3 separate regions of the Homo sapiens genome follow, and all the other regions are reported to be linked to region 1. Evidence: microRNA targets listed by miRTarBase, many of them from high-throughput screens and not tested one by one. Region 1 holds a microRNA gene; each other region holds the end of a gene's coding sequence. Distances are between the middles of the regions.
What was found. Region 1 holds the annotated microRNA hsa-miR-6771-5p (CUCGGGAGGGCAUGGGCCAGGC, at 3,076-3,097, opposite strand). A microRNA usually pairs through its seed, bases 2 to 8, with sites in the 3' UTR of a target mRNA and lowers its output. Matches are read on the target gene's strand: a 7mer-m8 pairs with bases 2 to 8, a 7mer-A1 pairs with bases 2 to 7 and ends in A, and an 8mer does both.

Region 2: the mRNA of POLR1E is a reported target of hsa-miR-6771-5p. The part of its 3' UTR that is shown has no 7-base or 8-base seed match.
Region 3: the mRNA of PDP2 is a reported target of hsa-miR-6771-5p. Seed matches in the 3' UTR shown: 7mer-m8 at 3,556-3,562.

The regions. Positions count from the first base shown.
Region 1 is chr16:50,287,766-50,295,717 of GRCh38, reverse strand. It overlaps MIR6771 (microRNA 6771), which reads right to left and starts at 3,102; the gene lies at 3,043-3,102. It overlaps ADCY7 (adenylate cyclase 7), which reads right to left. Exons shown (of 26, transcript NM_001114.5): 2 at 7,368-7,806; 3 at 5,058-5,261; 4 at 3,821-3,982; 5 at 2,893-3,042; 6 at 2,216-2,364; 7 at 967-1,078. The coding sequence starts at 7,538.
Region 2 is chr9:37,501,879-37,509,830 of GRCh38, reverse strand. POLR1E (RNA polymerase I subunit E) reads right to left here. Exons shown (of 12, transcript NM_022490.4): 12 at 6,134-6,788. The coding sequence ends at 6,629. Among named protein-coding and RNA genes, the nearest start is that of POLR1E, 20 kb to the right of the region's middle.
Region 3 is chr16:66,884,633-66,892,584 of GRCh38, forward strand. It overlaps PDP2 (pyruvate dehydrogenase phosphatase catalytic subunit 2), which reads left to right. Exons shown (of 2, transcript NM_020786.4): 2 at 1-6,469. The coding sequence ends at 1,242. It overlaps LOC124903700 (a long non-coding RNA gene), which reads left to right and starts at 7,726. Exons shown (of 2, transcript XR_007065089.1): 1 at 7,726-7,952.

The sequences.
Region 1 (7,952 bases):
GAGCTCCTCAGCATCCTGGTCCTCGCCTCAGCCCTCATGTCCTTGCATGTCAGACCTTGTGCCCTTGTCCCCCTCACACCTCACACGCACACTGAGCACGTTCACCCCATGGACACACGGGGCTTTCTTTCTACTCCAGGCTTTGTCTATGCTGTTCCCCCTGCTAAGAACACTGTTCCCTTTCCTCCTCAGATATTTTTTCAAGTATCTCAGACTTTAAGGTGGGCCAGGAGTGGTGGCCCACGGCTGTAATCCCAGCACTTGGGAGGCCAAGAGGGGATGATCACTTGAGGTCAGGAGTTCGAGACCAGCCTGGCCTACATGGCGAAACCCCATTGCTACAAAAAAAAAAAAAAAAAAAAAAAAAAAAAATTAGCCAGGCGTGGTGGTGCATGCCTGTAGTCCCAGCTACTCAGGAGGCTGAGGCATGAGAATCACTTGAGCCTGGCAGGTCGAGGCTGCAGTGAGCAGTGATGGCACCACTGCACTCCAGCCTTCATGACAGAATGAGACTCCATCTCACAAAAACAAACAAACAAAACGTAAAAGTTTAATGTGCACATGATTCACCTCAGATCCTGTGAAAAGCAGCTTCTGGGTGAGGCTGGGCATTCCACAGTCCTCCTGAGCTACCAGGTGAGTGGAGGCTGCTAGCCTTGCCAGTGAGGATGGAGCCATCTCCTCCTCCTGAGCCCCCATCTGAGCTCCAGAGCCCCAGTATATCGCCCAGTGTGCACTGTCAGTCTCCCCACTGGCCTGTCACTCTGGGGGCACAGGATCCTGGCTGCCGTGGCCACCACTCACCCCCACCTTTACCATGGGGCGCTTGTGTTTGCTGGCTGGATGCTAAAATTCAGCCACGCCTCCCCATCCCAATTCCAGCAGGGCACTGAACACAGGACACCCCTGGGGTGTAATAGGCAGGGGAGGGGCCTGGCTTTGCCCATTGTAGGCCAGCGGGCTCACCTTGGCGATCTGGTCGAACTTGCCAAAGAGCTCATTCAGCACCACCACCAGCTCCTTGGGAGAACAGTCGCTGGCCAGCTGCGTGAAGCCCACGATGTCCGCATAGAGGATGCTGGGGATGGGGCAGGGTGGGAGGGAGTGTCAGAGCCAGGCTCCTAGACAGCAGCAGCAGGAGCACGCAGGACTGTCTGGAGCCCCAGGAGCCTGCCAGGCCTGAGCCCATTCACCCCCGTCCTTCCTCAGCCTCCATAGGGATGGGAGAGTCGCGCCCAGCCATAGAGACAGATTAAAGTTCCAGGGGCTTCACGTTAAAGCAGAAGGGAGCAAAATTCAGAGCCTACAGGAGCCCTCGGCCCCACCCCAGGCCCTATCACTGCAGACAGCCGAAGGGCACTCCTGCAGGCAGCCCGGAGCCTTCCCCTTTCCCATCCAATGTTCACCACAGCACAGACTTCAGAACTCCCTGGTGAGAGGCAGCTCCATGCTCCCTCAAGCCAACCTCCACACCCAGCACTTTACAGGCATCGAGTCCTCACACAGCCCTTGCCGAACTCCCGTTCTACAGATGCACAAACTGAGGCTCCAGGACATTGAGACTTGCTGGGAAGCCAAGAGCTGGCATCTGCACCAGTTCTCCCTGCTCCAAAGTCCTTAAGCTCATGGACCATCCACAGCCCAGAGAAAAGGCAGCGGGCCAGCCTTGGATGTAATGCTGGCGCTGCAGGCAGAGGACCCAGGGGGTCTCCTGGGACCCACATCTACACTCAACGGCACCCAGCACCCACATCGACACTTGACAAACTCAGGTCAGTGCATTCAAGTAAAATTTTGTGGTTCCCTGCAAATCAGCCAAAGACAGGTGTCAGAACCGGGGCACTCTTGGGCACCAAGGCCGGGGGGCTTTACCTCATTCTGGGGGTCCTGTGCTCCCTTGAGAACCATCTGAAAGGACCCCTTCCTTCACAAAAGCTATGTTTGCTCACACAGTTTTACAGTTTTGGGGGTGTGCTAGATCTTTCAATACCAATCTAAATTCTCTAATTTAAGAGCCCTGATCTGATCCTGCCCACAAGTGGGGGTTCTGAGACCCAGGGAGGGCCCCAGATTGACCTGGAACCATGGGGCCCTCTCCCAATCCCTATATGGGCAGGGGTCTGAGCCTCCAGATAGGGCGGGGAGGCCGCCTGGGGGCCGGTGGAACGGTGGGCCCAGTCCCCGGGATATGCTAATCACACGTCTCACCGCCCACCTGACATTCTGGTGCCTCTTGACGTAGAGGCTGTGGAAGTTGTTGTCAGGCATGCAGCGACGGTCACCATGCTCCTTGAGCCGTTCGATGATGGCCAGCTTCATGCCCATGGAGATGTGGGCCGGAAGCACTGACAGCAGCAGGTTCTCCTGGGTGTGGGTGGGCAGACCAGCAGAGGGACCAGCAAAGCGACCGGCGGAGGGACCAGCGGGGGACAGGCAGGGTAGCATCAGGTCCCAGACCTGGCCTCCTTGGCCCCCATCCTCCCTGCCTGCCTGCCCTGCCCACAATGTCCCCATCTCTGCTCTTGTCCTCCACCAACCCAACTGAGCATCTACCTCCCATGTACCCAGCAGCCCCCGGGACTCAGGGTGACTGAGAAAGGGCTCTTTCAGCTGGGGAGGCTAAGCTGATGGGTGAGCAGCCTGGAGCCACTACGGCCTTCTCTGCCGCCACCTGGGGACTGCGTGCCCAGGACTGAAACCACACAGAGGAAGGCAGAGTCAAGGGTCAGCAGGCTATGGTTACCCTGCTGGAGCCCAGGACTCACCGAGGTGAGACCTGCATGGGTGTCTGGCCATGCACCTCATGCACATGGCAGCATGAGTGTCTCATGTCCAACAGAAAGAGGAAGAGGACAGGGGTGTACAGGGTGAGGAGTGGGGGCCGGGTCCCACCTGCTGGCGCTTCTCGATGCGCAGCTTCCGGCGGATCTGGATGCACTTCACAGTGTAGGTGAAGAGGTCCCGGGATGCATCCTGCATTTGGTGCTTGTGGAAGGCGCCTGTCAGGTTCCCACACAGGAAGATGACTGCGTTGGCCAGCAGCTGCGGGTAGACAGGGGTTTGGCTCATTATGTGGCCTGGCCCATGCCCTCCCGAGGCACCAGACCCCTAGGCGGACTAGTGATGGCACCTCTTCCCATTCCCTGACCTTCAACCCACTGAGAATGGCACTCTTCCTGGGGCAGACAGGGAAACTGAGGCCCAGACAGGAGCTAGTCTCCTAGTGAGTCACTAGGACTGCAAGACCAGGACACCCAGGGAGGCAGAAGAGACCACCTCACAGAGCCCAGGGCCCGAGGGGCATGCGTGCTAAGGGCAGTCCCAGAGGGCACAGCGCCCAGCTGGCTGTGTGGAGGGCCAGCCTCTGCCTGGAGAGGACACCAGGCCTGGTCAGAGGGAAAACACTTCTCTAAACACCCAATAATTATGAACAGAAGATTCACTCATTCAACACAAAGACACAAGGCAGTGCCCTGGGGTACTCCCCCAAGCCCCGCCAGGACAGGGCCTTCGAGGGGAAACTTCGGCAATGGGACTCACCCCACGACAGTGTCCCTGAACCGGGAGGCAAGGCCTGAGGTCACGACCCTGAGGGCTGAGCCACAGGGGAGCCCTAGGCCAGCAAAGCAAAGGCCAGAGGGCAGGGCCACGCCTGGAGCCCAGCTTCCGAGCAGACGTGGAGAGGGCCCGGCCTTGGAGCGGGCTGTCTGCAAACACGGCTCCGGGGCCTTCGGGTCTGATTCACCCAGAGGGGGCCCCCCCATCTGCCCTTAGACCCAGACCACAAAACCTCCCCCAGAGGCCTTAGCCCATCCCTCACCTGCAGCCCCACCCGGACACTGGGTGTCGTGAAGCCTCCCATCAAAGAACCGAGCACCAGGAGGTGGGAGGCAGTGGAGACGGCCCCAACGGCGACAGCGCCCCGCATGCTGAAGGGCAGTAGTGTGTACACCACGAAGACAATGAACAGGAAGAAGGGCACCTGTGGATGCAGCCTGGTGAGCCCGGTGCCCCAAGATGCTGCCCCAGGCCGTACAGCCCCCGGAACCCTGCACCACAGCAGCCCACCCAGTGCGTATCCTTAGGTTGGCTCCCTCGCCACCCCCTGCGTGGGCAGACATACAAGGGAACAAGAAAAGCCATAATGTGTTTCTAGGGTGGGCCCGGCCACAAGGTTCATGGTTTCCTGTGCTGATCCACTGCCTGTGGCCACCCTAGGTGGGAGGCTCCATGCCCCGCGTGATCCAGGGAGCCCCCACCTGGTGCCCCTGCCACGTGGTTCTCGCTCAGCAGAAATGATTACCGGGAGGCTGAGGCACCCTCTCACCAGCTGCCTCCAGCAATGCGGCCCCACCCGCCCTCCCTCCACCCCCAGAGCTGCCCCACCATCCCCACCGGCTGGTCCTGCGTCCACCCCTCTGGGAGTGCTGCCCTCTCCCTCCCCTTCAGTCCACATGGTTTCCTTGGGCCTCACCCCACCCTGCCCCAGCCACAGGAGCTGTCATAGGACCCAGGCCCACTGGTCAGAGTGTGCTACCGCTTGGTGACAGCCTCTCTGGGACTGGGCCCATGACCACAGCCAGGCCAGTGTGGCTCAAGCCTGCAGGTCGAGCTGGTTGAGAAAGGGCCCTCTCTCTCAACTGGGGTGGGCAGCCTGGAGCCGCTGTGAACTTCTCTGCCCCCACCTGGGGACAGCGTGCCCGGGGCCGAAGCTGTCCAGAGGCCCCAGTTCCAGTTACCCACTGGAGCCCAGCACTGACCCCTTGGCCTTTCCTGACACAGGAACCAGTTTGTGCCTTTTTGCCTCTTTGAGCTGAAGTTCTGTCATCTCCAACCAAACTGGAGCCACCCAAAAGTGCTGCAGCCCAGCGTCCGAGTGGATGCTCTCCCCACCTCAGCCCTGTCAATGCAGAGAACTCACAGGGACAAAACCAGCCTGGGGCCATCCTAGACACACAGCCAAGCGTGGGGCACGAAGGGCCTGTGGCATGCCCACCAACCACGGGGATGGGAGCTGCTGAAGGCGCAGCTGGCAGGGAGTCCAGAGTTCCTGTTACCTGCTCCCACGCACAGGCCGCCTTTGTCCATGCGTCGAACACCAGCACATAGCCCAGCGCCACCAAGCAGGCCCAGGTGAGCAGCGCCAAGGCCCTGAGCCAGCGCCGCAGGAGACACTCGACGTACATCAGCACAGAGAGGGCCGCAAACACCGCCAGCACCAGGAACGCCATGCCCAGAATGGCCTGGTGTCTGGAGGGGTCCTGGGTGGAGCAAACAGACAGGAATGCCTCGGCTTTCCCCAGTGCAGAGCCACCTCCTCCAGAAAGCCTGCCGGGCCGGCTGCCTCACTTACAGCTTCCTCCACGTGAAGGGTGTGGATGCACCCTCCCACACCTGGTTCCCACTCACCTTCTGGCCTTTGTCACCTCTGCCAAGGCTGCCTCAACCACCCCCTTCCCATCATCTCGGGAACCAGAGCATCACCCACAGCCCCGCCCATGATGCCATCACTCTCCATCTGCCTCTGCCTCCTCTCTGGGTTCCCACGGTGCTCTGTGCACAGCCGCAGGTGATACCACAAGCACAGGGCAGGACTCATTCACAGGCAGAGCCTTGTAAAGCCGCCCAAAGAGGACACTGCGCCTGGCCCTCAGTGAGTGAGCAGAGGCTGGTGAGGGATACCAGGAAAAGTCATCCCACAGGGGAGGAGCTGAGGCAATGGCACAGAGGTGGGACAGGACGGGCACAGCATCCGGGAGGTCCGTGGGGGCAGAGGCCTGATCTGGGGGCTGGCACACAGTAGCAAGCATCCTGTGGTTGGTAGCCACATGGATCCAGGCTGCACTGGCAGCTGCTAGGTCCTGGCCACTTCACTCACATAAACACCCTGGAGTTTCTGAGTGTTCTTCTAGAACTCAGCTAATCAAATTTACATTCACTAAAAAGAAAATGGGCTGGGCATGGTGGCTCACGCCTATAATCCCAGCACTTTGGGAGGCCGAGGCAGGTGGATCAGCTGAGGTCAGGAATTTGAGACCAGCCTGGCCAACATGGTGAAACCCTGTCTTTACTAAAAATACAAAAATTAGCCAGGCGTGGTGGCATGGGCCTGTAATCCCAGCTACTCGGGAGGCTGAGGCAGGAGAATCACTTGAACCTAGGAGGTGGAGGCTGCAGCGAGCCAAGTTGGTGCCATTGCACTCCAGCCTGGGCAATAAGAGCAAAACTCTTTTTTTTGAAAAATGCAGTTCCTCAGTCACATTACCCACTTTTTAAATGCTCAATAGCTAAACACAGCTAGTGGCTGTACCAAGGCAAGTGCCTGGGCCGGAAATGACATAGGTGGTGCCAGCCTGGAGAGCTGTGTTAAAAAGGATTCTGAGGCCGGGCACAGTGGTTCACACCTGTAATCCCAACACTTTGGGAGGCCAAGGCAGGAGGATTACTTGAGGCCAGGAGTTCAAGACCAGCCTGGGCAACATAGCGAGGCCATGTCTCTACAAAAACAAACAAACAAAAAAAAAACAAAAGGAGGATTCTGAGAATGTAGACAGGCTCAGTGTGGAATGTAGGGATTGATTAATGATGTCTGCATGGGTACAGGAAGTGAGGGCAGTGATACACAGGCCATCCCTGACCCAGGTCTTCAGTAGAATCGAATTTCATCATGGAGAAAAATGAGAGTAGTTTATCTGGACAAGTTAATGTAATGTCTGAAACCACTCCAGACTTCAAAACTGAATTAAAGTTAGAGAGGCTGGGCATGGTCGTGCATGCTTGTACTCCCAGCTACTCAGGAGGATAAGCCAGGATGATTACTTGAACCCAGGAGTTCAAGGCCAACCTGGGCAACAAAACAAGGCCCAGTCTCAAAAAAAATTTTTTTAAATTAGAAACTTGTCTTCTACCAGTCTAAATGTGCTGTAAAAGACAGAGCATTGGCCGGGCATGGTGGCTCACGTCTATAATCCCAGCACTTTGGGGGGCCGAAGCAGGTGGATCACCTGAGGTTGGGAGTTCGAGACCAGCCTGGCCAACATGGTGAAAGCCCATCTCTACTAAAAATACAAAAATTAGCTGGGCATGGTGGCATGCACCTGTCATCCTAGCTACTCGGAAGGCTGAGGCAGGAGAATTGCTTGAGCCCAGGAGATGGAGGTTGCAGTGAGCCGAGATCATGCCACTGTACTCCAGCCTGGGTGACAGAGTGAGACTCTGTCTCAAAAAAACCCAAAAACAAAACAAAACAAACAAAAAAGCATAGCATTTTACAGAAGATAAGCATTTTACAGAAGAGGCTAAGAGAAGATAGCAGCTTGGCCAAGGTTGGGGCCGAGACGTGAAGCCCAGGGGCTGCCCTCACTCACCCCCTGGCTGAAGGCAATGATGATGAGGGCCACGCAGGCAGTGGCGGCCACCAGCAGGAGCGTGAGCAGCAGCGGCCCATGCTGGCTGGTGAGCTGGTACTTCTCGTAGAGCGCATCTTGGTCAGGGCCCTCCTCGCCCTCGTTGAGGAAGTAGCGCCCCTTGGCTGGCATCCTCCACCCTTGGCACGCGTGTCGTTAAGGGGCCGTTAAGGAGGCCCCAGGGCCTGGAGGGCATCTGTCTGCCAACACCCTCCCCCGTGGGCCTAGGCCTCTGTCCTCTCCGAGGCAGGCAAGCAGGGCTGGGGAGAGGGCCTCTGGGCCTGCTGCTCCATGGCCAACAAGGGGTCCGCACAGCTCTGGCACCAGGCCTCACTCACTGTGCCGCCAGCATCCTCCTGTGCATCCAGACTGGGCTGACTCCACACGCAGTTCCTCAGCTCTGCGGAGACGAAGCAGACAGGAACTTGACCTAATGGTCCAAGTCAGGGGAGGGCTAGCATCAGGGAGAGCGGGGCCCAGGCCTCACAGCACCAAGTCTGATTTATCCATCTTAACCCTAACCTAACTTTTATGTCCTGTTGTCGT
Region 2 (7,952 bases), not on the chromosome of region 1:
TGTAGGCAGAAGTGGTTAATGGTCACTTCTGGGTAGAAGCTTTAAGGGCCAGCAGAACTTGCCCCGATCGTGTGTCCCTCTGCCAGTGGACCACCACGTGTCAGACATGGCAGCCCGAGTCCCGGGGTGAAGCTAACCCGGAGCAGGGTCCCAGGTGCCTGCTGGCTGACAGACATGTGCCAGACATTCAACAAAAGCAAATGAACTTTTGTTGAAACCAGACATTTGAGGGCCATTTGTCACTTCAGCTTAGCCTAACCAGCAGAACACAAGTACTTTACTACATCCCTGAGCCACCTAAAATCATCGTAAGTTCTGTCAATAATGTATTAAACATTGACTTGGTGAGCTCATTGTCCCCATTTTGGAGGCTGGGAGTGCTGATGCTCCTGAGATCCGGCAGGGGAAAGTTCCCTATCAGATGTGGAGAGGTGTGAGGAGGGCTATTACCTGGAGCAAAGGTGGCAGGGAAGGGAACAGCTGGGACACAAATTCCCTCCAGGTCATTTGGAGGCAGAAGTGGGAGGAACAGAACACCCACCTTAGCTCTTGTGTTTGGGGAAGAGTCAGGGAGTGCGGGTGCTTTGCACAACAGGCCAGACTTGCCCAAGAAAACTGAGCCCATCTAACTTTTTACTTAATTGAGCCAAAGTCTCTCTCCCTCGCTAAATTCTACCCCTCCTTCAGAAGCTCCTTAGTCACTACTTCTATGGAACACCTTCCCCTGTCTCTACAAATAACAGTTAACTGCGCCTTCTCCATGCTCCTGTGCCCACTCAGCCACATGCCACCTGCAGATGGCACTGAATCCTCTCTTTTCAGTCTGTTGGTTGAGGGCAGGGACTTTGCCCATCTTGTTCACTGTTGATTCTCTATGCCCAGCACAGAGCAAAGCTCACTAAGTGTTGGATGGATGGCGGACAGACAGGCAGACAAATGAGGAAACAAACCCAACCTCATTCCCAGAATCTCTACCTCCTGGGGCCCCCAAAGGACATCTCTTCACTCTGTTCTGTGACAACTCTTCAGAGATTTGCAGGCAGCACCCTCATCCCCCTGGGGTCTGCTGCCCTCCTGGGTTCCTCTCGTATGTGCCAGTTTGCAGGGTGTCTCTTCACCACCCTGGTCATTTCTCTAGACTCACTCCAGTGGCCTGGGTAGGTCTGGGAGAGCCCAAAGAAGCAGAGTTGAGGCGTCCTGTCCTGTATCTCAGGAGGAATGGCCCAGCTCCATGGGCAGCACTCACGGATCTAAAGAGAATTCTCTAAAGTACTGTGTTTCCTTGGAATCATTTGCTTTCAGTCTGCAGTAGCTTCCCTCCCACCCACAGGAATACTGCCATGGGTGAAGGCTTCACTCTGGTGCAGAGTTCACAAGAGGTTCCAGCTGACCTCTACCCAAGCAGCTTATACTGTGTCCTCCCTGGACTTCCCTGTTGGCCAGTCAGGCCCAAACACGGATGTCTGCTGATGGGAATGTACAAGCACAGCAAACACCAGTATGATTTCATCATCTAGGCCTCCAGGTCTTGGTGAGGCCACTGCCCTGGTGCCCAGAGGAAGTCCTAAGTACAGCGGATGTGGACATGGTATGGCCAGACCAGGCAAGAGCCAGAGATGAGCCTTGGAACAGCACATGAGCCTATACTGTCAACAGCACCCCTGGGCCCACCTTCTTCAATCTCCCTTCTGACAACACAGAGCAAGCTTTCTCTCCAAATGCTTCCTCATGGTGGGCTCATGTGGGGCATGCTGGGCTTATTCCTACCCGGATCAGCCTCCCGACACAGGCATGCTCGCCCCATTGGTACCTTCTCACTACCCTCCAGACCTCTGCAGGGTGCCCTTCATGGAGCTCCTGAGCCCGTCAGCTGTGTAGTGTGCTTTTTAAATGAAGTCAAACCTAGCATGGCCTCCTGGTGCAGCCTGAGCTCCCCATCACAGAGCTGTCACCTCTACCCCGAGCCTAGTTCTTGCCTGAGTGCAGCTGAAGATCCCATCTGTCTGGTGGTCAGGATTGCATTTCACTTCCTGCTTCAGGCCCATCATTCATGTCATCCGCTATTCTCCGCTAAAAGGCCAGAGCTCCTTGGATAAAAGACGGATTCAAAGCTGGGCGTGGTGGTGCATGCCTATAGTCCTAGCTACTCAGGAGGCTGAGGCAGGAGGATGGCTTGAGCCCAGGAGTGGAGTGAGCTGACTGCACCACCGCTCTCCAGCCTGAGCGACAGAGCAAGACCCTGTCTCTAAAAAGCAAAACCACAACAAAAGACTGACTCCAGGGCTGCAGCAGGGAAAGTACAAGGTAGGCCTGGAATATCTCATGCTAGAAAGTAAGGAAGCACCCTTAAAATGATGGGATCCAGGAGGTTTCCTGAAGGAACTCAAGATTGGCCAAATACATACAATCTGGACATCACAAGGAATCACAGTAACAGACTCCACATAGAACACAAGACTCTTGAGTCTATGCCAATAACTAAATGAACACAAAACTTCTAAGGTCGAGAAAACAAACTGCCTTATAAGAGCATGCCAATAATTAGAAGAAACGATAATGTTGCAAAATCACCATTTTGCAACCATCTTGGTAATTGATTCAGCAAGAATCATCAATTGAGGCTGAAACTAGTAGGTGAAAGTTTGATGAGGAACAGGATACTTAGTTTCAAAGTATCCCTCCAGAAATTACTTATTAAAAGGAAAAACAGTATCTTCACAATGCGGAAAACACAACCTTAACTGATAAAAGTTAACAGCAGCAAGGAAAGCGCAGTCCCACATCATGGGCCCCTAATGTGATGCATGTGGGTCACAGCATCATTTCTGTGCTGTTCCTGCCAAAAATGTAAATCCTGAATCCGATCACGGGAAAGCCCCAAATGTAAACTGACAGACACCCTAAAGAATAACACCTCACTCTCCAAAATGTCAAAGCCGAGAAAGTCCAATAAAAATCTGAACTGTTTCAGATTAAGCAAGACCAAAGAGGCATGGTGATCGGTAAGATTTGAACATGAACTGTGGGCTAAGTCATAGTATTGCATTATTGTCTTATTTCCTGCATCTGATGGACTGTGGTTATGGAAGAGAAAGTCCTGATTCTTAAGATGTACACACTGAAAAAGTACTTATGGGTAGAAGGGTAGGATGTTTTCCTCAAATGGTTCAAAAACAAATCTCAAAATGTCTAAAGCAAATAGTAAATGGGACAAAGTATTGACAGTTGGAGAATCTGGGTAAAGGATATACAAGAGTTCTTGCAAGTTTTCTCTGTGTGAAACTATATCAAAATACTTTTTTAAAAGAGGAGACACTTGAAAGAATGTTATGTAATTTACTATTTCCAGGTTAGGGTCTCCTGCAAATGTGGTAACTATGCCTTCTTTGACCTCATCCCAATTAACAGTGTCCAGCAGGTCAGGGCAGCAAGCAAAGACTTCCCTCTAAGGAACAGACTTCATTCTGTTAATCAAACCCTGCCAAGTTAAGACTATCCCACAAACTACAAATCTTCAGGGCACCAGCATCTGGCTCATAGTCCCCCTTTCTTCAATGAGGCCATCAGGAGACATTCTGGCAAATAGCTTGGTGAGATCAAGGTATCCTCTGGGAATCTATTAGTAAACAAATGGGTTTCTAAAGCCAGAAGAAACCCTAGTACAATCCCATTATTCTGCAGGTATTTACCACCTAATAACCCTGCCAAGGAAAGTACGGTTCATGCCGACTCATTCTGCAGACACTGACCACTTTCTATGTCAGGTATTGTGCTAGGTGGAGCCCTCTTCTGAGCCTTTCCTAAGGACTCACAAATCTCCTAATGTACAGAAATTTGCTTTTTAGCCTCTTGGAATGTGTCCCCGACATTTAGCAAAATACACCTGTTGACACACGACAAGTATTTGCCCGCCTAGTCTTTCCCTATCCATACCTACAGTCATTACCACCTGCTTCTCCACTAGGTCAGAGGTTGTTCAGAGGGTCCCAGCCACATGCTGTGTCCAGTCATTCCCAGAAATTAAGCCTCCAAGTGTCAAACCCAGCTGAATTTTAAAAGTAATCACAAAAGGCTGGGCGTGGTGGCTCACGCCTATAATTCCAGCACTTTGGGAGACCGAGGCGGGCAGATCACCTGAGGTCAGGAGATTGAGACCAGCCTAACATGGAGAAACGCTGTCTCTACTAAAAATACAAAATTAGCCGGGCATGGTGGTGCATGCCTGTAATCGGGAGGCTGAGGCAGGAGAAGCACTTGAACCCGGGAGGCAGAGGTTGCAGTGAGCTAAGATCACGCCATTGCACTCCAGCCTGGGCAACAAGAGCGAAACTCCATCTCAAAAAAAAAAAGTAATCACGGAAACACATTCTACCCTGAGGATGTATTAGAAGTCCTTTTCTGAGAGATTATTTTTTCCAAGGAAGAGTCACATACTTGATTTTCACAACGGCTTAAAGGAAAACAAGAGACAAGTAGATTCCCTGCCCACACCTCTGCTGAAGGAAGACAAAGTATGCTCCAAGTGCCTCCTACCCAGGGCCAGAGGCAGATGGGGACAAAGCAGAGGAGCACAGCTCTGAGGGCATCCCAGACCGCAAAGAAAATAAGGTGCACCTGCCCCAAAGCTCAGCCAAGACTCCTTTCCACTGTGACTCCCAAATGGAGGGCCCCAGGTGCTGTGTAAACTTCTCCTCTCAGAGGAGCTGAGTTCTGTCTCCCTCCCTTCACTGACCCGGCCTCCCAGGTGCTGAGTGTCACAGATCTCAACTGCTCCCACTTGAAGCAGGACCCTGAGATGTGAGACTGGGCCCAGGCCACGTACCTAAGCCTTCCTGTGTCACACTCCTGTCCTTATAGCACCGCTCTGGACACAGCTTCTCCATCTCCTCAGTGGCACATACAATTGGTTGGCAGTTATAATCCACTCATGTCCTTCTAGAATGCCTCCTGTAACTAGAGGCTGGTGAGCTGAAACCTATTTCAAAGACTCCCATTCTGCTAGGATTCTACATGCTAATCAGGCTCCTATATATGCGCACCAGAAGGAAGCAAGGTGGAGGCCAGCTGCTTGACCTTCTGGCTGTCTGTGGTGACAAAGTGGTGGAAATACAGGACCTTTGAAAGCACGGGTAGGCTGGGCACGGTGGCTCACACCTGTAATCCCAGCACCTTGGGAGGCCAAGGCGGGTGGATCATGAGGTCAGGAGTCCAAGACCAGCCTGGCCAACACAGTGAAACCCTGTCTCTACTAAAAATGCAAAAAAATTAGCTGGGCATGGTGGCGCATGCCTGTAATCCCAGCTACTCGGGAGGCTGAGGCAGGAGAATTGCTTGAACCAGGCCATGGGAGGCGGAGGTAGCAGTGAGCGAGATCGTGCCACTGCACTCCAGCCTGGGCTACAGAGCAAGACTCTGTCTCAAAAAAATAAAAAGAAAAAGAAGAAAGCATGGGTAGCTGAAATCAGCAGCCCAGTGTTGAATCTTCAGCTGCATGAATTCCAGGAGCAGTTATGGAGCAGAAGTGGCTTCTGAGTCCCCGATGGCAACCCCGGCAGTGTGTTCTTGAATTCAGCAGTCCTGACGGCAACCTTCCGATTCCCAGTCCTCTGGCCCTTGTCACAATTCTACAGCACCTTATCCATACATTAAAATCCATTCTTCTTAAGATACCTAGAGCAATTGATTTTCTGAACTGAACACTGACTGATTCATCCTCTTCAAAGTGTGGCTTTCATAGCTGACCCCTGCCTTCTATGTGGCCTCCACCAGACAGAGAAATTGGGTCACCACTTCCTCTGACTTGGCTCCACCCCATTACAACAGGCTGTATCCTACTGGCCTGTGGCAGCCCCCATCACACTGGTGACCCAGTTAGCTTCTGATAAAGCCTGAAGTGTCATTTCCCAGGCGTGCTGGGCCAGATCCTCCTTCCTCACTGCGTACTCCACTGGCCCTTCCAGACCTAAGCACGCCACTTCACATTTCTCTTTGGAAACCTTCATCCATTAGATTTGACTCAGCCTGGTGAGTCAACTTTGGGAGGGAGGACCCACCCTCCCAAATCCCCACAGGTGAACCAACATGAGAAACATCTGCCATTTATAATCACAGCAATAATACCAAAGGAGAGAGATGAAGTCCAACCTGGCCATCGCTTTATATTTCTGCATAAGACAAGCACAGTTGAGATGCTGGCTTCTGGCTTCATACCTGTGCTAAAGCAAGGCTTCTTTTTTCCTTATGTTACTTTTTTGAGACAAGGTCTCACTCTGTGACCCAGGATGGAGTGTGGCCACACAATCATAGCTCACTGCAACCTTGATTTCCCAAGCTCAAGTAATCGTCCTGCCTCAGCCTCCCGAGTAGCTGGGATTACAGGCGCACACCACCAGGCCTGACTCTTTTTTTTTTCCTCCGGTAGAGATGGGGTCTCCCTATGTTGTCCAGACTGGTTTCAAACTCCTGAGCTCAATGATCTTCCTGCCTCGGCCTCCCAAAGTGCTGGGATTTCAGGTGTGAGCCACCATCCCCGGACCTTTTCTTTTCAAAACATACATAAAAATGGAAATGAATAGGACCAGCCAGTGGCTGTGATGCAGCCAAAACGCCCTGTCTGGAAAGCATGCGTCTAGGTAATCTTCCTCCGCTTTGCCAGGCGGTCTGAGGTCTGGGCTGGAGGCAGCGGGAGGGACAGGGTGCCCAGCTTGTGATCTTCTTCACTGCCGGCGGCCACAGACACCCTTCTTTTGGAGATCTTCAGCCTCATGGCTTTGGCTATCTCCATCATCCTAAGGAAGACATAAACAGAAGAACTGGAGAGACCCCTCAACATGACTGTTCAGGGAGGTTTGGCAAAAGGTAGCAGCACATTCATGCTCCAGGCCATAAAGACAGAATCCCAAAGGTTGCCAGCAGGCACAAAGCCCCTGGCAGAGAGGCAGGCAAGGTCCCCTCACCCGCTGGGAACCATCAGACAGCCAATTTCATTTTAATGCCCTTCAAAAGATCCATATGGGTGATGAAAAACCAGGGTATCTACAGCCCCGTGAGCAACTTTCTTTACCTCCCATAACCAAACTTTTAGCAACCAGGATTGAGCACTTGCTAGAATCTGACAGGTTCCAAGTACCTGTTCTCTTTTTTTCAGCCTCACTGCCTGTGGGAACACAGTTTGTGGACAGCCCTCAGAACAGTCCCTCCACGGACTGCTAGAGAGTCCAGACAGAGGTGTGTTCACAGGCTCTCCTAGACACCCTCTGGGCCACTGGATGTCAGATGCCCCTAAATCACTGACAAAGATCAGCTGACCTCACAGTTCAGGTTCCTGGGCAGCTCTGCCCCTACTGTCTGAATCTCCTCTACAAGGCTAGATGGAGCCTAAAAGGTCACCTCCACCACCAGCTCTCCCAGTTGGGTCAGAGAAGTGCAAACATAAAATCCCTGCCAAACAGCAGTTCCACCTGGCCTTGGAACCAGCGGTTCCCCTGGCAAACCCTTCCATCTGATTGTGAGGAAGCTCTTCTTACTAAGCTCAAATTGGGTTGTCCTACAACTTCCACCCTGAGCTGCACTCCTCAGAACCATACAGAATCCCTCTCCCCTGTGACAGCAATTCAGAGAATGGAGGCTGCCTGGTTATTCAGAACAGAATGTTATGGAAAGGCTCAGGTCTCAAGGCCAACTACTCCCCTCTTGGTTGTGTAACCTTGAGAATGTTACGTACTTTTCTGAGCCTGATTCTTCAATTGTTTTCTAGGGAAATCAGTGAGATAATGACATAATTTATCTAGCACAGAGAAGGCACTCAGTAATGTCTAGTTGCTCATTCAGTCAATGATTCATTCATTGAAAATAGTCCTTTAGTTCCAAGTTGTTCCCACATTTAAACATCCTCAGTTCCCTTGGTGGTGCCTCATGCTTTCCAGTGGTACCAGAAATAAGACATCGAGACA
Region 3 (7,952 bases), 17 Mb from region 1:
AATTCCCCAGTGGAGGACCGGCGAGGTGTAGCCTCCTGCCTGCAAACCAATGGACTGATGTTTGGCATCTTCGATGGACATGGTGGTCATGCATGTGCCCAAGCAGTGAGCGAGAGGCTCTTCTACTATGTGGCAGTGTCCCTGATGTCCCACCAGACCCTGGAGCACATGGAGGGAGCTATGGAAAGCATGAAACCCTTGCTGCCCATCCTGCATTGGCTCAAGCACCCAGGGGACAGTATCTACAAGGATGTCACATCTGTGCATCTTGACCACCTCCGTGTCTATTGGCAGGAACTGCTTGATTTGCACATGGAAATGGGACTAAGCATTGAAGAAGCATTAATGTACTCCTTCCAGAGACTGGATTCTGACATCTCGCTGGAAATCCAGGCCCCCCTGGAAGATGAGGTGACAAGGAACCTGTCACTCCAGGTTGCTTTCTCTGGGGCAACAGCTTGCATGGCCCATGTTGATGGAATTCACTTGCACGTGGCAAATGCTGGTGACTGCCGAGCCATCCTTGGTGTCCAAGAGGACAATGGCATGTGGTCTTGTCTGCCCCTTACACGTGACCACAATGCCTGGAACCAGGCCGAGCTGTCCCGGCTAAAGAGGGAGCACCCTGAGTCAGAGGACAGGACGATCATCATGGAGGACAGGCTACTGGGCGTCCTCATCCCCTGCAGGGCCTTTGGGGATGTTCAGCTGAAGTGGAGTAAAGAGTTGCAGCGCAGCATTCTGGAGAGGGGCTTCAATACCGAGGCCCTCAACATTTACCAGTTCACACCCCCACACTACTACACTCCACCCTACCTGACTGCTGAGCCTGAGGTCACATACCACAGGCTGAGGCCCCAGGATAAGTTCCTTGTGCTGGCCTCAGATGGCCTGTGGGACATGCTGAGCAATGAGGACGTGGTAAGGCTGGTGGTGGGGCACCTGGCTGAGGCAGATTGGCACAAGACAGACCTGGCCCAGAGACCCGCCAACTTGGGGCTCATGCAGAGCCTGCTGCTGCAGAGGAAAGCCAGCGGGCTCCACGAGGCTGACCAAAATGCAGCCACGCGGCTGATCAGACATGCCATCGGGAACAATGAGTATGGGGAGATGGAGGCAGAGCGGCTGGCGGCGATGCTGACATTGCCAGAGGACTTGGCGAGGATGTACAGGGATGATATCACTGTCACTGTGGTGTATTTTAACTCAGAATCAATCGGTGCATATTACAAGGGGGGTTAAGAATCTCCCATCCTATTGTCAAGGTTAACATAAATGCTCTTCTAAAATGTTTCACTTACTCCTAAACTAGCTATCCAAACCTTACTATTAAAAGCGCAGGCAGATTTAATTTGCTAAATAGACTAACAGGAGGAAAAAAACAAACAGCCTAGCTTTAAAAAACAGTGAAATAGCAGTGATTTCATGTCCCTGTATGTTCTGATTAAGTCTTATATGCAGAGAGGACAGAGCATAAAGTCTATAGAATTGGCTTGGGCTTGTGTAGCCCCAGTCATTTGATAAAGATGTTGTTAAACTGTGTCAGCCTGAGCCTTCAAAGGGTAAATTTAATCATGATTCTGAGAATAAAGAACTTCAGGAGCTTCTTAGGTCTTGCCACAAAAATCTGCAAATTTGATAATTCTCCTGAATTCACAATCATGGACTTGTAGACTATGAAGAGATATTTTATTTGTTTGTCTTTTATTTAAATTACTAAGGTCTAGGTTTACAAAGCATACTACAGGACCCTTTTCTATGCAATATCCTAACTTTTTTTTTTGTGATTATGCTTGTGAGAAATTTTGTAATACTACATTCTAGTTCTGTTTTCGTTTATTTTAAAACTGAATCCTTAAACTTGCAAACACGCCTACTGTAAGCATGCTTGGAATGACTTGTTTTGGTTTTCAGCTGATAGGATCTATGCCTCTGGACCAGCTGAACTTACTGGTGCAGCTTTTTGTGCCCTCTACTGAGTCCCATTCCAGAAACTTTGAGCCATGCTAGGAGGTAACTAGTCTATGCCTTAACTCCTGACCTTTCCTGCATTAGTAAAATTTCCTCCTGGGCTGAGCCTTTGGGGGTTGATTCACAGCATTTAAGCTTTCTGATTATACCTCTCAAACATTCTTCTGTCAATTCCACACAATCCTTCTACCTCTGCTATGCTGAACCCCTCATTCACCCTGCACCTGCCAACTGCAAAATATTGTCTGAAAGAATCTTTCACATGTTCCTGCTTCCTATGGCTGCAGGAAAGGAGAAAATGTGATTGCATGTGGTAGTTGTGGTGATAGACGTTTAGACAGGACAGGTTAATTTAGCGGATTGTGGACTTAAGATTCAACCTCTATCTGGAGAGGTGAAAACACAAAGGCTTAAGGACAACAGTTTCTAACCAAGTTTCTCTGAATCCTTTCCTGAGAGGTGGTGGGCAGGAGGGAGGAGTGAGACTTATCAGATGGGACGCTTGCCCCAAGACTGTGGGATAAACCACCATTGCTAGTCCTCAGGAATTAGACCATATTTAGTATAGGAGTTGGGGCAAAAATAAAAGTGTAATTTGTAATGGTTTCTGTGGGCTGTAGACTCTTTGTATTTACTTGGAAATTCAGTTATGTGGATCCATTTTGGAGATGAATTTCATCTCATGAGTTGCTGTGGCATTTAAACAACAGGAAATGTGTCCCTAAATGGAAACAAATATAATCCCACAAAACCAACAATTTTATTTGCCTCTACTACGTCAGGCAGAATTCTTCAATTAAGTTGAACTACATTTGTTGATCCCTTTTCTCATCTTACCCCTTTATGCCACCTACTGAAAAGAAAAACAAATAGCTAGGTTTGGTTTCCTGTTTTTTGTCTATGTCCCAGCTGACATTCAGTCAAATGTTGGGATACTTCTAATTTGGTGGTGTTTCTTTGTACATTTTTCAGTGCAACTGTTTAGTCATGTGTTTTCATCTAAGAAATTATCTTTTGAATATTTAAGCCTTGATCCTTTTATTCTGAAACCATTAATATTCCTTCTTGGCTGGGTGCAGTAGTTTACGCCTGTAATCCCAGCACTGTGGGAGGCCGAGGCGGATGGATCACCTGAGGTCGGGAATTCGAGACCAGCCTGACCAACATGGAGAAACTCCATCTCTACTAAAAATACAAAATTAGCCAGGTGTGGTGGTGCATGCCTGTAATCCCAGCTACTCGGGAGGCTGAGGCAGGAAAATCACTTGAACCCGGGAGGCGGAGGTTGCGGTGAGCCAAGATCGCACCATTGCACTCCAGCCTGGGCAACAAGAGTGAAACTCTGTCTCAAAAAAAAAAAAAAAAAATCCATCTTATCTCTTAGTCCGTCCTTCCTTCCTTCCTTCCTTCCTTCCTTCCTTCCTTCCTTCCTTCCTTCCTTCCTTCCTTCCTTCCTCTCTCTCTCTTTCTTTCTTTCTTTCCTTCTTGACAGGGTCTCCCTGTAGCCAGGCTGGAGTGCAATGGCATGATCTTGGCTCACTGCAACCTCTGCAGCCCAGGCTCAAACGATCCTCCTGCCTCAGCCTCCCGAGTAGCTGGGACTATGCACCACCATGCCTGGCTAATTTTTTTAATTTTTTGTAGAGACAGGGTTTTGCCATGTTGCCCAGGCTGGTCTCAAACTCCTAGACTCAAGCAATCTGCCCACCTCGGCCTCCCAAGGTGCTGGGATGATAGGCATGAGCCACCGCACCCAGCCTATCTCCTAGATCTTGAATCAAAAATAAAATGTAAATCACTTCCATTCTGCTAGCATGAGGGTTTGTTGCTAAAATTGAGGATTCTATCTGACGTTTACTTTTTGTTGTTTTTTGAGACAAGGTCTTGCTTTGTCGCCCATGCTGGAGTGCAGTGGCATCATTATAACTCACTGTCAAACTCCTGGACTCCAATGTTCCCTCCCCTTTTAGCCTCCCAAGTAGCTGGGTCTACAGGCATGAACCATCAGGCCCAGATAATTAAAAAAACTTTTTTTGGTGAAAACATGATCTTGCTATGTTGCTCAGGCTGGTTGTCTGGCATTTTCTTTGTCCTTTATTCTTTATACTAGCTAAACCCTGGAGTATCCTTGAAGCCTTTACTGGCATACAGAGTACCTGAATCTTACTTTGGAGCCTAGCATGGGTCATAAATATATCTGATTCATTAACCTGTGAGACAGCTGAGAGAACACAGACTCCTTACCTGTATCTCCAGGCATATCTGGTTTTTCTCTGCCTAATAGATTTTCCTGCTTTCTAGTTAGTAATATTGAGAAAGAAGAAAGGCTTATTTATCATTTGCTTTTTTTCCACTGTGAATCATCTGTTCTTTCCATGAACATTCTGGGGAGCACCTCCTGATTAAACTCCTGTCTCCCTGACCACTATCCTGCTGTCATTGGACTTCTTGAAGCACATGGGCTACTGCCCCAGGACACTGGGATTTGAGAGGAGTTTAGTGGTAATTGTCAGGTCTTTCAAAGCATTTATTATTCCTTTTATACGGAGATTTCAGTATTGAGACTTAAAATGAACTGAAAAATGAGATTGAACATTTAATATTTTGGATGTAACTTTTGAAGAAAGTATGCTTTGGTGCTTAAAATTGTATATGATTTTAGGTAAGAAACTTTGATAATATTGGCATAATTTAGATTTATTTTCTTTCTTTTTTTTGAGACAGTCTCACTCAGTCGCCCAGGCTGAAGTGCAGTGACACAGTCTCAGCTCACTGCAACGTCTGCCTCCCAGATTGAAGTGACTCTCGTGCCTCTGCCACAGAGTAGCTGGGATTACAGGCATGCACCACCACACACCGCTAATTTTTTGTATTTTTAGTAGAGACAGAGTTTCACCATGTTGGCCAGGCTGCGAACTCCTGAGCTCAAGTGATCCTCCCACCTCAGCTTCCCAAAGTGCTAGCATTACAGGCATGAGCCACCACACCTCACCAGATTTTTAAAAAATATATAACTGCATCTCTCTTGATTCTGGGGCTTGGTAAAAATGGATAGATAAGATAGTATTCTAAATTCAAATTCGTGGCTAGGCACAGTGGCCCACACCTGTAATCCCAGCACTTTGGGATTCCAAGACAGAAGACTCACTTGAGTACAGTATGAGACCAGCCTGGGCAACATAGATCTTGCCTCTACAAAAAAAAAAAAAAATAGCCAGGTGTGGCACATGCCTGTAGTCTCAGCTGCTTGGAAGGCTGAAATGAGAGGATCTCTTGAGCCCAGGAGGTCTAGGCCAGAGTGAGCTGTGATCGTGCCATTGCACTCCAGACTGAGTGACAGAGTGAGACTGTGTCTAAAAAAAAAGTTTGAATTAAAAAAAAAAAAAAAAAAGTCGGCTGTGCACGGTGGCTCATGCCTGTGATCCCAGCACTTTCGGAGGCCAAAGTGGGTGGATTACCTGAGGTCAGGAGTTTGAGACCAGCCTGACCAACATGGTAAAACTCCATCTCTACTAAAAATACAAAAATTAGCCTGGAATAGTGGCGCATGCCTGTAATCCCAGCTACTTGTGAGGCTGAGGCAGGAGAATCCCTTGAACCCAGAAGGCAGAGGTTGCAGTGAGCTGAGATTGTGCCATTGCACTCCAGCCTGGGCAACATGAGCGAAACTCCATCTCAAAAAAACAAAAACAAAAAACAAACTCAAATTAGCATGATAGATCAGGCTACTTAGATTCAGCTTTCTGAGATGTTATTTGTTAACATTAAGGCTAATTTATTATAATGAAAATGTAAACTTTGAGGTATGTTAATATATAAACATCTTTTTCCTTTGGCCTAAAAGGTCTTTAGTATTCAGCACACTGGGTAAAGTTCAGTTTAGACACAATCAAATTGGCATCTTTTAAACATAAGTGAAATATAGAGAGCTTGAACTTGAGTTACTTAAAGAAGATACAGTATAATTAATTATACAGAACAAAACAAAGATGTGTTTAGAGTGACTCTGGCCTGACTCTTGTCCATCAGCCCCTAGTAGCCTATCTTCAGCCTTTGGGAAGTCTTAACTTCCCAGGTTAAACTAGAATATTCTGGAACTGAGCTGTCCAAATTTCATCTTAAAGTGGATCATTTGACTCTGAAACACGATTCTCATGGCAGAAAAAGCCCTGGTGTTTCCTTGGAGCTGGGGATAAAGGCCAGTGAGCCAGCCTGTGATGAGAGCTGCCCCTGGCACTATCTGAGTGGAAAGCTCATTGGGACAGCCATGCAGCTATCAGAGCCGACTGAAGCCCTGTCCCTTACCCCTCAGGCACCTGATGCTTAACTTGCCTCCTGGGAAATAATGATCTAGCATTTACTTGGAACAATGATTAATCATGTTCTTTAATAATTGCTGACATTTGTATTTTAAGCTGTATACCAATGTTCGTATTTGACATTGATTTTCTAACCATTAGAGATATTTAATTAAAACTTGGAAATGAAAGAAACAAAATGAAATTTAGTTTCTTTTGGTTTGAATCCTAATTTTTTTTTTCAGTCCTTAAGGTACTAGATTAGGCCAACCTTTGTTTCACCACCTTTATCTGACCGTGGAAGATTTTAGGCTGTTCAAGAGTCCACCCAAAAGAGAAGTATGCTGCTCTGCAAAGGTTTGGTGGCTGTTGCCCAGGAAATCCTCATTTAGTGTTGACCGTGTGTGTGGAGACCTGAAAGAAGTGAAGGCTTTTGTTGTGAGGGTCTCCACACACTCAGGGCCAAAGCCTGCCAGAATTTCATACTATTTAACTTGAGACATTAAAACCAACTTGGCACATTACCCCCTCGCCCCGGAAGAGAGAAGTGGGCAGAAGTGGAAGGGTGCAGTGGCTCATGCCATCATGCCCAGCCAACCCTCCTTTTCAGCAAGATCAAATTGATGCCCAGAGGTTGAAAAACACCCACGACACAGCGGTAGGGCCAGGATTTGAACCAAGTCCAAAGTCCCAATACTGGGCTTTCAGGAAGGGAGAATTATGTACAGTTTTTTGCACAATTTTGGCCTGGAATGAGTGGGGCTGGGAGGAGAGGTTGGTGGTACTGAAAGGAAGCTAGAAGGCTTTTGGGGGGTTATTGCTGATAATAGCATAGTTTTATGGGCAGAGTGTGGTGGCTCACACCTGTAATCCCAGCACTTTGGGGGGCCAAGGTGGGAGGATTGCCTAAGCCCAGGAGTTCGAGACCAGCCCGGGCAACATAGTGAGAACCGCCCCCCCCATCTCTACAAAAATAAAAATAAAAATTAGCCAGGCAAGGTGGTGTGTTCCTGTAGTCCCAGCTACTTGGGGGACTGAGATGGGAAGGTTGCTTGAGCCCAGGAGGTGGAGTCTTCAGTGAGCCATGATTGTACCACTCCACTTCAGCCTGTGCGGCCAAGCGAGACCTTGTCTCAAAAATAATAATAATAAAATAAGACTGGGTGCTGTGGCTCATGCCTGTAATCCCAGCACTTTGAGAGGCCAAGGTGAGCAGATCACCTGAGGTCAGAAGTTCGAGAGCAGCCAGGATAACATGGTGAAACCCTGTCTCTGCTAAAAATACAAAAATTAAATGGGTGTGGTGGCACACAACTGTAATTCCAGCTACTTGGGAGGCTAAGGCAGAAGAATTGCTTGAACCCACGAGGCAGAGGTTGTAGTGAGCTGAGATGATGCCACTGCACTCCAGCCTGGGCGACAGAGCGAGACTCAGTCTCAAAAATAATAAATAATAATAATAATAATAATAGTAGTAATAATAAAATAGCTCTGTGGACTCTGATAATGCTTTCGCTCTTATGAGTAAAGCTACATATATTTAACTTATACACATGCCAATGTCCCATCATTTTAGAACATGATAAAGGGAACACAGGGAGAATTAAATTTTTTTTTTTTTTTTGAGATGGAATTTTGCTCTTCTTGCTCAGGGTGGAGTGCAATGGCACGATCTCAGCTCAC